2 separate regions of the Homo sapiens genome follow, and region 1 is linked to region 2. The links come from fine-mapping of genetic effects on gene expression. A gene starts in region 2. The other region holds a variant in brackets. All regions are shown on one strand. Distances are from middle to middle. Region 1 overlaps XRCC1 (X-ray repair cross complementing 1). Region 2 holds the start of ZNF575 (zinc finger protein 575).

The links. PIP is the estimated chance that this variant, and not a neighbour inherited with it, causes the effect.
Region 1: its variant is fine-mapped to the expression of ZNF575 in whole blood (INTERVAL, PIP above 0.99).

What each region holds. Positions count from the first base shown.
Region 1 is chr19:43,561,671-43,567,035 of GRCh38, forward strand. All of the region lies in intron 2 of XRCC1 (X-ray repair cross complementing 1), which reads right to left. Among named protein-coding and RNA genes, the nearest start is that of XRCC1, 11 kb to the right of the region's middle. RefSeq lists an enhancer at 1,415-1,915. The variant C/T (reference allele first, on the strand shown) is at 2,371.
Region 2 is chr19:43,530,755-43,536,119 of GRCh38, forward strand. It overlaps ZNF575 (zinc finger protein 575), which reads left to right and starts at 2,434. Exons shown (of 4, transcript NM_174945.3): 1 at 2,434-2,767; 2 at 3,041-3,148; 3 at 3,583-3,747; 4 at 4,275-5,333. The coding sequence starts at 3,669. The coding sequence ends at 4,933. RefSeq lists silencers at 401-572, 2,540-2,849.

The sequences.
Region 1 (5,365 bases), 31 kb after region 2:
TTTGTTGAAAGAAGAAAAGAGCTACCTATAGGAGGGCTCATCTCAAAGGATCTGCCATTCCTGTCTGACAGATGAAGATGCAGAAAGCCGTGCGGGCCATGCGGGCACGGGAGGCAGTTAGGTTGAGGCAAGTGTCCTGCCTTCCAGTTTGGGGCTCTTTTATTAGGATCCTAGAATGACGCATTATTACAACTCTCAAAGGTACCTGGGCCAGGTGCAGTGGCTCAAGCCTGTAAATCCAGCACTCTGCGAGGCCAAGGCAGTGGACCACTTGAGGCCAGCCTGGCCAACATGGCAAAACCCCTTCTCTACTAAAAATATAAAATATAGCCGGGCATGGTGACACATGCCTGTAGTCCCAGCTCTTCAAGAGGCTGAGGCACAAGAATCTCTTGAACCTAGGAGGCAGAGGTTTCAGTAAGCAGAGATCATGCCACTGCACTCCAGCCTGGGTGACAGAGCGAGACTCTGTCACAAAAAAAAAAAAAAAAAAAACCAAGGTACCTAGTCCACCCTACACTGCCCTCTCCCACCCCTGGTGATGACAGATGCTCCAATCTGCTCTGTTGCCTCCCTGTCAGATCATCTAGACATCACCTGCACACTGCTATCAACAGGAACACCACTGTATGGAAGGAGGGAGCCTGGACTTGGGGTGAGGTAGGCCTGGGCTCAAATACAGCAATGCCATTTCCAACCTGCACAACCTTGGGTGACGTATTCAACGTCTCTGTGAGGCAGTTTCCTCACATGCAAAAAGGGAAGATGGTCATTAACAACCCTCCCTCCTTGGCCAGGCGCAGTGGCTCACGTCTCTATAACCAGCACTTTGGGAGGCTGGGGTGGGAGGATCACTTGAGGCTGGGAGTTCAAGACCAGCCTGGGCAACATAGCCAGACCTTGTCTCTACAAAAATTACAAAAATTAGCAAGGCATGGTGGCACATACCTGTGGTCCCAGCTACTCAGGAGGCTGAGGAAGGAGGATCGCGTGAGCCTGGGGAGGTCAAGGCTGCAGTGAGTCATGTTCGCATCACTGTACTCTGGGCGACAGAGTGATGAGACCTTGTCTTCAAAAAAAAACTTACCCTCCCTCTGAAGGAAGTTGAGATGACACAGAATTAACAACTATAACCACAACTGCGGCCAACATCCGAGTGCACTGAGCGCTCCTGGTGTGCCAGACTCCTGCTAATAATACATGTATCTACTCTCCTGCAATGGCTCTGCCAGGCAGTTGCTATAATTATCTCCATCTTACACATGAGCAAACGGAGGCAGGAAGTGGTTATGTAACTTCACAGCTGGTGGGTGGCAAAGCCGGACCGGAACCCAGGCAGGCTGGCAACAGTCCACGCGTGCTCCTCCATCACACCACTGACGTGCTAGAGGAGGAAGATGGTGCTGGAGGAAGGGCCTGCCTAAGGCTGAGGCCGGCAGACCTCCTGCTGACTCCCCTGCCTCCACCGCCATTCCCAGCCCTGGGCCCTGGGCAGTGTACAGTGCTGCCTGGGCTCATGAGATGTCCCAGTCTGGGCCAGGTGTGGTGGCTCACACCCGTAATACCAGCACTTTGGGAGGCTGAGACAGGTGAATCGCTTGAGGTCAGGAGTTTGAGACTAGCCTGGCCAACATGGTGAAACCCTGTCTCTACTAAAAATATGAAAATTAAAATTAGCCGGGCATGGTGGTGAGCGCCTGTAATCCCAGATACTGGGGAGGCTGAGGCAGGAGAATCACTTGAACCCGGGAGGCAGAGGTTGCAGTGAGCCGAGATTGTGCCACTGCACTCCAGCTTGGGCGATGGAGTGAGACTCTGTCTCAAAAACAACAACAACAACAAAAACAACAATAACAAGAAGTCCCAGTCTGACTGCTCCCCAGGCCAGGCTTGGTGACTTTCCACCAGCCACAACGGCCTCCCTTCTGTGCCAAGAACAGTCTGGCTCCTTCCCACCTCAGGGCCTCTGCACCTGCCAATCCCCCTGCCTAGACCACTCTTCCCTCAAACATATCCATAGCTGGGTAAAAGTTTGCCTTCTGTGCTTCAGGTGCCCACTCAGATGTCACTTCAGACCATAAGTAACCTACCTCGCCCCCTACCTGGTGCCACTCTCTATCTCCCTACCCGACTTTACTTTTCTTCATGATTACTGCCTGGTGTTACACAGTTACATCTTTTTTGTTTGTATTTGTCTAGCATCTGTCTCTCCCGCCAGACTTTTAAGCTCCACAAGAGCAAGGACAGTATCGTCTGAGTTGTTCCCTACTGTGTCCCCAAGGCCAAGAACAGTGTCTGGTCCTTCCCAGCTCTGCTGATTTCCTGCTGTGTGATCCTGGAGCAAATGGTTTCATTTCACCCCTTGTGCCT[C/T]AGTTTTCGAACCTATGAAATGGGGACAATAACAACGTCTATCTCATAAAGTTGTTGAGAACATTCAAATCCATACCAAGAATGAGAAATAACATACCAAGTGCCTGGAATACTGCCTGGCACCGAGCAAACACTACATAAATGTCAGCTGCGAATATCATTAACACAGCAGGCCTCTACTGCATTCCCAATGGATGTACAGACAGACGCAGAACAGGCGCCCAGCAACCGTTTGCAGAAGTTACTACTCAAGAGTTATTAAGCAGTAACTCTGGCTCTGTCCTCCCTTACCAAGTGGCCCTGTTGAGCCCCTTCTCTGCTGCTTGCCTGGGTGTCCCATCTGTCACAAGAGGATCATCATGGCTAACATTTTCGGATTCTCACCATGTGCCAGGTGCTTGGTGTATGAGTTTCCTGTTACTGTTGTACAAATTAGCACAAACTTTGTGGCTAAAAACACAAATTTGGCCAGGCGCAGTGGCTCACGCCTGTAATCCCAGAACTTTGGGAGACTGAGGCAGGCGGATCACCTGAGGTAGGGAGTTCGAGACCAGCCTGACCAAAATGCAGAAACTCCGTCTCTACTAAAAATACAAAATTAGCCAGGCGTGGTGGCGCATGCCTGTAATCCCAGCTACTCAGGAGGCTGAGGCAGGAGAATTGCTTAAACCGGGGGGGCGGAGGTTGCAGTGAGCCGAGATCACACCACTGCACTCCAGCCTGGGCAAGAAGAGCGAAACTCCGTCTCAAAAAAACAAAAAAAAAACACACAAATTTAATATCTTACAGATCTGGAGGTCAAAAGTCTGAAACTCGGCCTTACAGGGCTAAAATCTAGATGCGGCAGGGCTGCATTCCTTCCTTCCGGGAGCACTAGAGGAGAACGTGTCTCCTTGCATCTTCGGCTTCTCGAGGCCACCTGCCTTCCTTGGCTCACAGTCCCTTCCTCGTCTTCAAAGCTGCTGAAAGCGCTGGCATCACTCCAGGCTCTGCTTGCATCTTCACAGCTCTGGTTCCAGCTCTCTTGCCTCCCTCTTTCCCTTATAAGGCCTCTGGGGGTTACGTGAGGCCCACCAGATAATCCAGGGCACTCTCCCCATCTCAAGATCCTTAATTTAATCAAACCCACAGAGCTCCTTTGGCCATTAAAATATTTCCAGGTTCTGGGGATGAGGACATGAACATCTTTTGAGCACCACTGTTCTGTCCACCACACTTGGCTAAGCATGGGCCGGGCATCACTGAAGCCTCAAAACCACTTTAAATAGAAGGGTCTGTTACGACTCCAGTTTCACAGATGGGGAAACTGAGGCTCAGACAGGTTTAATCAATAGCTTACATGGCACACAAGCTAATAACTAGCAGAGTACTTCGGACGCAACTGCCTGACTGCAAAGCACTGTCCAATACCACCACTGTTCTCAACTCCTTTCTTTCCATCCCTGAGTCAAACTCAACATCTTTACCTCTCCCACAATATTCAGCATAGCTCCTAAATGTGGTAGGATGGAGATGCTTGTATTTTAAATGAACAATTCCTACTGCATATATAACTATTTCTACTTTAAACAGGCACTCCCTGACATTTCTTCTTTGTATATAAAAAAAGTCCTGGCTAGGAGCACTGGCTCACGCCTGTAATCCCAGCACCGTGGGAGGTGGAGGCGGGAGAATCACTTGAGGCCAGGAGTTCGAGACCAGCCTGGCCAACATAGCAAAACCCTGTCTCTACCAAAAATAAAAAAAGTTAGCTGGGTGTGGTGACACGCACCTCAATAATCCCAGCTACTCAGGAGGCTAAGGCACAAGAATTACTTGAACCTGGGAGGTGGAGGTTGCAGTGAGTTGAGACGAGCCACTACACCCCAGCCTGGGTGATAAAGTGAGACTCTGTCTCAAGAGAGAAAACAACAGGCTGGGCACAGTGGCTCACACCTGTAATCTCAGCACTTTGGGAGGCCAAGGCAGGCAGATCACTTGAGGCCAGGAGTTCAAGACCAGCATGACCAATATGGTGAAACCCTGTCTCTACTAAAAATATAAAAATTAGCCAGACTTGGTGGCGTGCACCTGTAATCCCAGCTACACAGGAGGCTGAGGCCAGAGAATCACTTGAACCTGGGAGGCAGAAGTTGCAGCGAACCGAAATCATGCCACTGCACTCCAGCCTGGGTGACAGAGTGAGACTCCATCTAAAAAAAAAAAAAAGTGGCCAGGCACGGTGGCTCAGGCCTGTAATCCTAGCACTTCGGGAGGCAGAGGTTGGCAGATCACAAGGTCAGGAGAGTTCAAGACCAGGCTGGCCAAGAGGGTGAAACCCCGTCTCTAGTAAAAATACAAAAATTAACCAGGCATGGTGGCAGGCGCCTGTAATCCCAGCTACTCGGGAGGCTGAGGCAGAGAATTGCTTGAACCCAGGAGGCGGAGGTTGCAGTGAGCCAAGATCATGCCACTGCATTCCAGCCTGGGTGGCAGAGCAAGACTCTGTCTCAAAAAAAAAAAAAAAAAAAGTAAATAAATACTTTTTAAGAATCTGATAAAAATGTTTATACATGGAGGCTGGGGTGGTGGCTCACGCCTGTAATCCCAACACTTTGGGAGGCCAAGGCAGGTGGATTTCTTGAGCCCAGGAGTTCAAGACCAACCTGGGCAACACGGCGAAACCCCGTCTCTACTAAAAACAGAAAAATTAGTTGGGCATGGTGGCATGCGCCTGTAGTCCCAGCTACTCAGGAGACTGAGGCACGAGAATCACTTGAACCTGGGAAGCAGAGGTTGCAGTGAGCCGAGATTGCACCACTGCATTCCAGCCTGGGCAACAGAGCAAGACTCAATCTCAAAAAAAAAAAAAAAAAAAGGTTTATATATACATGGTAACAACCCAATAAATGTCCATCAGTTGATGAATAGATAAACATTGTACAGTATATTTATGGAATATCATCCAGTTATTTAAAAAACTGAAGTTGTGATATATGCTACAACATGGATGAAC
Region 2 (5,365 bases):
CTGGGATGACCTTCCCCTCCACACTTCATTTTCCTCCTCTGTACAAGGATGATAGTAGCACCTCCTCTTAAAACATTGCTATGGGGATTAAATAAATTAATGCACATAAGGACAGTTTCCAGTGTATAATAAGTGCTAGCAATTAATACTGTAATTAATATATAACAATACCCTCACTGGTCTTCTGGCTTCTACTCTGCCTTCTTAAAATCATGGTTCTTGAAAATAGCTGTGGCCCTAGAGGTTGGGCGCGGTGGCTCACACCTGAAATCCCAGCACCATGGGAGGCCGAAGTGGGCGGATCACCTGAGGTCAGGAGTTTGAGACCAGCCTGGCCAACATGGTGAAACTCCATCTTTACCAAAAATACAAAAAAAAAAAAAAAAATTAGCCAGGCGTGGTGACGGGCACCTGTAATCCCAGCTACTCAGGACGTTGAAGCAGGAGAATCACTTGAACCTGGGAGGTGGAGGTTACAGTGGGCTGATATCTCGCCACTGCACACCAGCTTGGGTGACAGAGCAAGACTCCGTGCAAAAAAAGAAAGAGGTGGGCACAGTGGCTCACCCCTGTAATCCCAGCACTTTGGGAGGCCAAGACGGGTGGATCACGAGGTCAGGAGATCGAGACCAGCCTGGCCAACATGGTGAAACCCTGTCTCTACTAAAAATACAAAAATTAGCTGGGTGTTGTGGTGAACACCTGTAATCCCAGCTACTTGGGAGGCTGAAGCAGGAGAATCGCTTGAACTCGGGAGGCAGAGGTTGCAGTGAGCCAAGATTGCGCCACTGCACTCCAGCCTGGGGGACACAGCGAGATTCCATCTCAAAAAAAAGAGAGAGAGAGAGACCGAAGTGTCACTTCAAACTAATACAATGTGTGGAGCTCATTTAGATCTTAAGTCAAGCAAATCAAGTGTAATAAAAAGATATTTATGAGATATGATGTTTGACATTTAGCTTCAGAATCATTTGGGAAGAGTGGATGGGGGGTAAATCAAACAATACTGGTCATGAGTGAATAATTATTTTAAAAACTTTTTTTTTAAAGATACGGGGTATCACTCTGTTGCGCAGGCTGGAATGCAGTAACACAATCATAGCTCATTGCAGACATGAACTCCTGGGTGAGTCCCCACTCCCTACCCCCGTGAAATAGCTGGGACTACAGGCTGCCATTAAGCCAGACTTTTTTTTTTTTTTTTTTTTTTTTTTTAAGATGGGGAGGTGTCTCACTATGTTGCCTAGGCTGGGATTTTTGTTTGTTTGGGTTTTTGGTTTTTTTGTTTTTTTGAGACGGAGTCTCACTCTGTTGCCCAGGCTGGAGTGCAGTGGCTTGATCTTGGCTCACTGCAACCTCTGCCTCCCAGGTTCAAGCCATCCTCCCACCTCAGCCTCCGGAGTAGCTGAGATTACAAGCGTGTGCCACCATGCCTGACTAATTTTTGTATTTTTAGTAGAGACGGGTTTTCACCATGTTGGCCAGGCTGGTCTCGAACTCCTGACGTCAGGTGATCCGTCCACCTCCGCCTCCCAAAGTGCTGGGATTACAGGCGTGAGCCACCGTGCCTAGCCCCCGTCTAGTTTGGAAATCCTGGGCTCAAGTGATTCGCCCGCCTCTGCCTCCCAGAGTGCTGGGATTACAGGCATGAGACAGGGAGCCCGGCCTAGGCACTTTCTAGTCTAAACACTTTCCATTGATTATCATATTTAATCCTAAAAACGCTCCATTTTATAGATGAGGAAACAGGCCTAGAAAGAGAGCTAGAAAGGGTCACACGGCTAGAAAGTGGCACAGCCGTATTCCAAACCAGTTACCCAGGCAATCTGGCTCCAGAGTCCAAATAACCCCGCCAAACTCCCAGGGATCGCCAGACCTTGCGGGTTATCGGACTGAGACCCACCCATGCAGAGGACTTTTATGGGCATTTCCTGGTCCTTTCTGCACCAGGCAGGAAGGTGCACCGCCACTGCTCGGGAAGAATGCTAAGCTGCATGCCACCCCAGGCCTGGCACCAAGAGCATGGGCCAGGGCACCTCGGGACCACCCAGGCTTCCGAGGGGGAAGGTAGATGGGTGCGTGGCTGAGAATCTTGAATCACCCAATAGCGAGGTGTGCCAAGGCGCTGTGCAAATAACGTGCCTTTTATTGGGCACTGGCTCTCTTTGAGCCCGGAGTCCCGCCCCCGCCCTCTCTCGAAGAACTGGCCAGACTTTTTGCAAACGCCTTGAAGGGTAGAATTAGCAGCGAGCTCTTGAAACTGCCTCTGGAGATGGAACTCAGCGGAATTCTCGAAAAGAAGAGGGACATTAAAAAGACGGGTGCATGCACTGATTTCCAAGCGCAGTTTGTCCATGTTAGTCTTGTACATGCTTGACTCCAGTCAGCCACCGTAGGCCCCGCCACCGGCGGTGCACTTTCTGTCGATACGGTAGCTTCGCGCTTGCTCACGAACTTGCCTGCCTGGCTGGCGCACCCAGCCCCTCCTTCCATTCCTTCTTCCCCCTCTCTGCAGCCTCTGCCAGCCCGCACTGCGCATGCTTTCTGACGCCCCCTTTGGTCCAGCGTGGGAGGAGGGGATGGAAATGAGGTTGGGCTAAGCAGCTTGCGCGCGCTCCCTTGCCTGCCCTCCCCCGACGCCGGACGCGCGCCGGGCGGGGCAGCTCCGCTGGTCCGAGGGCAGTGCAGCAGCGGCGACAGCGGCTGCGGCCGTGGCCGTGGCGGGAGGAGCCGGAAGCCCCGCCCCCGGGGAGGGGCCGTCCTGCAGGTGAGGGCGCAGGGGTTCGGGCGCGGATATTGGCTTGCAGGCTGAATGCCAGAATCACCCCGAGGGAGATCGGTTGTGGTCCGGACGCCTAGATTCTGGAGATGCTGGAGGGACTGTGCATTGGTGCCAGAGCCTCGGGAGGGTGCATCGGTGCCTGAATGTCTGATTCCGAGGGGTGCATTGAATCCTTTACGCTTGGGACTCTGAGGGAAAAGTCCATTAGGGGTCTCTGGACCGCGACGCATGCCAGGTTCCTTCCGTATCTTCCTCCAGGTCCCCCCTCTATCCTCCACGGCCCCATCCAAGCCAGGGATGAAATTTAACGGCAAGAAGGGCGCAGTTGACGCGGCGTCAATGAACTGAGACTAAGTCAAAAGCCGGGTAAAGCTAGGTCTTCGACGTGAAGCCCCGCCCACTGTGCCCATAGGCCCCTCCCCTGGGACGGTGATGAAAGACCTGCCCACTCCGCTCGAAGGCCCCCGCCCCCTGGGTCTAGTTTCAGAACAAGACTTTTTTTGTACAGCCCCGCCCATTCCAGGACTGCAGGGTCTGGTGGGGAAGGTCCCGCCCACTCTGCGCATAGGCCCCGCCGGCTCCGCGCTTAAGACGGCCGCTGAGTTAGTTGTGGAGACTCCGCCCACTCTGCTGAAAGACTCCAACCCTGGGTTTAGATAGCGAAGGGACTGCCTCTGGCTTGAATTTGCATAGCCCCGCTCACTGTGCTCTTAGGCTCCGCCTCCCCGCTAAGCCTGCCCCCGCCTTAGCATCCCATACTTGCAGACCTTGCTCCTAAACAGTGTGATCCCTCATTTTAGGCCCTCCAACCCTATCCCCATCAGCCTGGTCATCACCGGCGTCACCCCCGCCCCGCGCCCTGCCCCTAGGTTCCTGTGCCAGCAAGATGCTGGAGCGAGGCGCGGAGTCCGCGGCCGGGGCTACCGATCCTAGTCCCACTGGCAAGGAACCAGTGACCAAAGAAGGTGAGAGTGCCCCGCCTGTGAGTAGGGAGCATTCTCCAGGAACGGGGGCCAAAATAATCACATTCTGGGGGAATCTCAGGGTGAAAATTTGAGGGCCCTAGGGTGATGACTATTTGGGATCCCCAAAACTGCCACATTCTGGGAAATCCTCCCATTTGGCTCAGAGAGAGCCTCAGTGACCATTTGCTAAGGCTCAGGAAATGAGCCTTACAGAAGGGACGGGTCAGGGATGACATGCGGGATGTCAGGGTGATCACTGGGAAGATACTAGAAACGGATACCTTGGTAGCTTTGAGGAAGCCTTAGTAGCTTTGGGGATCCAGGAAAGTAACCCTTTGGAGTCCCTCAGAATGACGCCTGGGGGGAGGGGGGAGCAGAAACATGCAATTTGGGGAGTCTCAATGTGATGCTTGAGGTGCCCAGGTACACTTGGAGGAGCCCCACGAATATCAAAGTCGTGGCGGAGCCTGGCCTAGGCCCAGGGCGTTGGCTGCTTCCTGGAGCCCACCAGCCCTCCTGTCCCCCAGCTCCCCACCAGGGCCCACCGCAGAAGCCCAGCCAGTCAGCTCCAGGGCCCACCGCGTCCGCGGGCTCGCCTCCCCGGCCTCGCCGGCGGCCCCCGCCCCAGCGCCCGCACCGCTGCCCCGACTGTGACAAGGCCTTCTCGTACCCGTCCAAGCTGGCCACGCACCGCTTAGCACACGGAGGCGCCCGACCCCACCCATGCCCAGACTGCCCCAAGGCCTTCTCCTACCCCTCCAAGCTGGCAGCCCACCGCCTCACGCACAGCGGCGCCCGCCCGCACCCGTGCCCACACTGCCCGAAGTCCTTTGGCCACCGCTCCAAGCTGGCGGCTCACCTCTGGACCCACGCACCCACCCGCCCCTACCCGTGCCCCGACTGCCCCAAGTCCTTCTGCTACCCTTCCAAGCTGGCGGCCCACCGCCACACGCACCACGCCACCGACGCCCGCCCCTATCCTTGCCCGCATTGCCCCAAGGCTTTCTCATTTCCCTCCAAGCTGGCCGCCCATCGCCTATGTCACGACCCCCCAACCGCGCCCGGCAGCCAGGCGACTGCCTGGCACCGATGCTCCAGCTGCGGCCAGGCCTTTGGCCAGAGACGCTTACTGCTCCTTCATCAACGCAGCCACCACCAGGTGGAGCACAAGGGGGAGAGAGACTGAGCCCTCCCTTGGCTCACTGTCCCCTTCTGCCGCCAGCCCTAGCCAGTAAGAGGTGGGATTTCTAAGACCGACTGTATGAGCTCGCCTCTTCCAGATAGCTGGCAGAGGGCAGGGCAAGGGATTGGCCATTTATACTGGGCTCGAGCTCAGAAGCCCGAGGAACTCTTTGCTCCCCTGCTTTGGGGAGATCTCAAACCATGGACGTGGAGCTGTGGTTTGACAGCGCTGGCTCTGCTTCTCCCCACACACTTACATGGCAAAGGTAAAAAGTCTGCTACTATCGTGGGTTGATGAGGATTGTGGGCAAACAGGCTCTCTTGTTAAAAGTTTAAACTGGTGTCTCCACTTTGGCCATATGACGGTATCTAAGAAATTGAAAATACATACATGCTTGTCTCAACTCTTCCACTTGTAGGAATTTATTCTATAAAC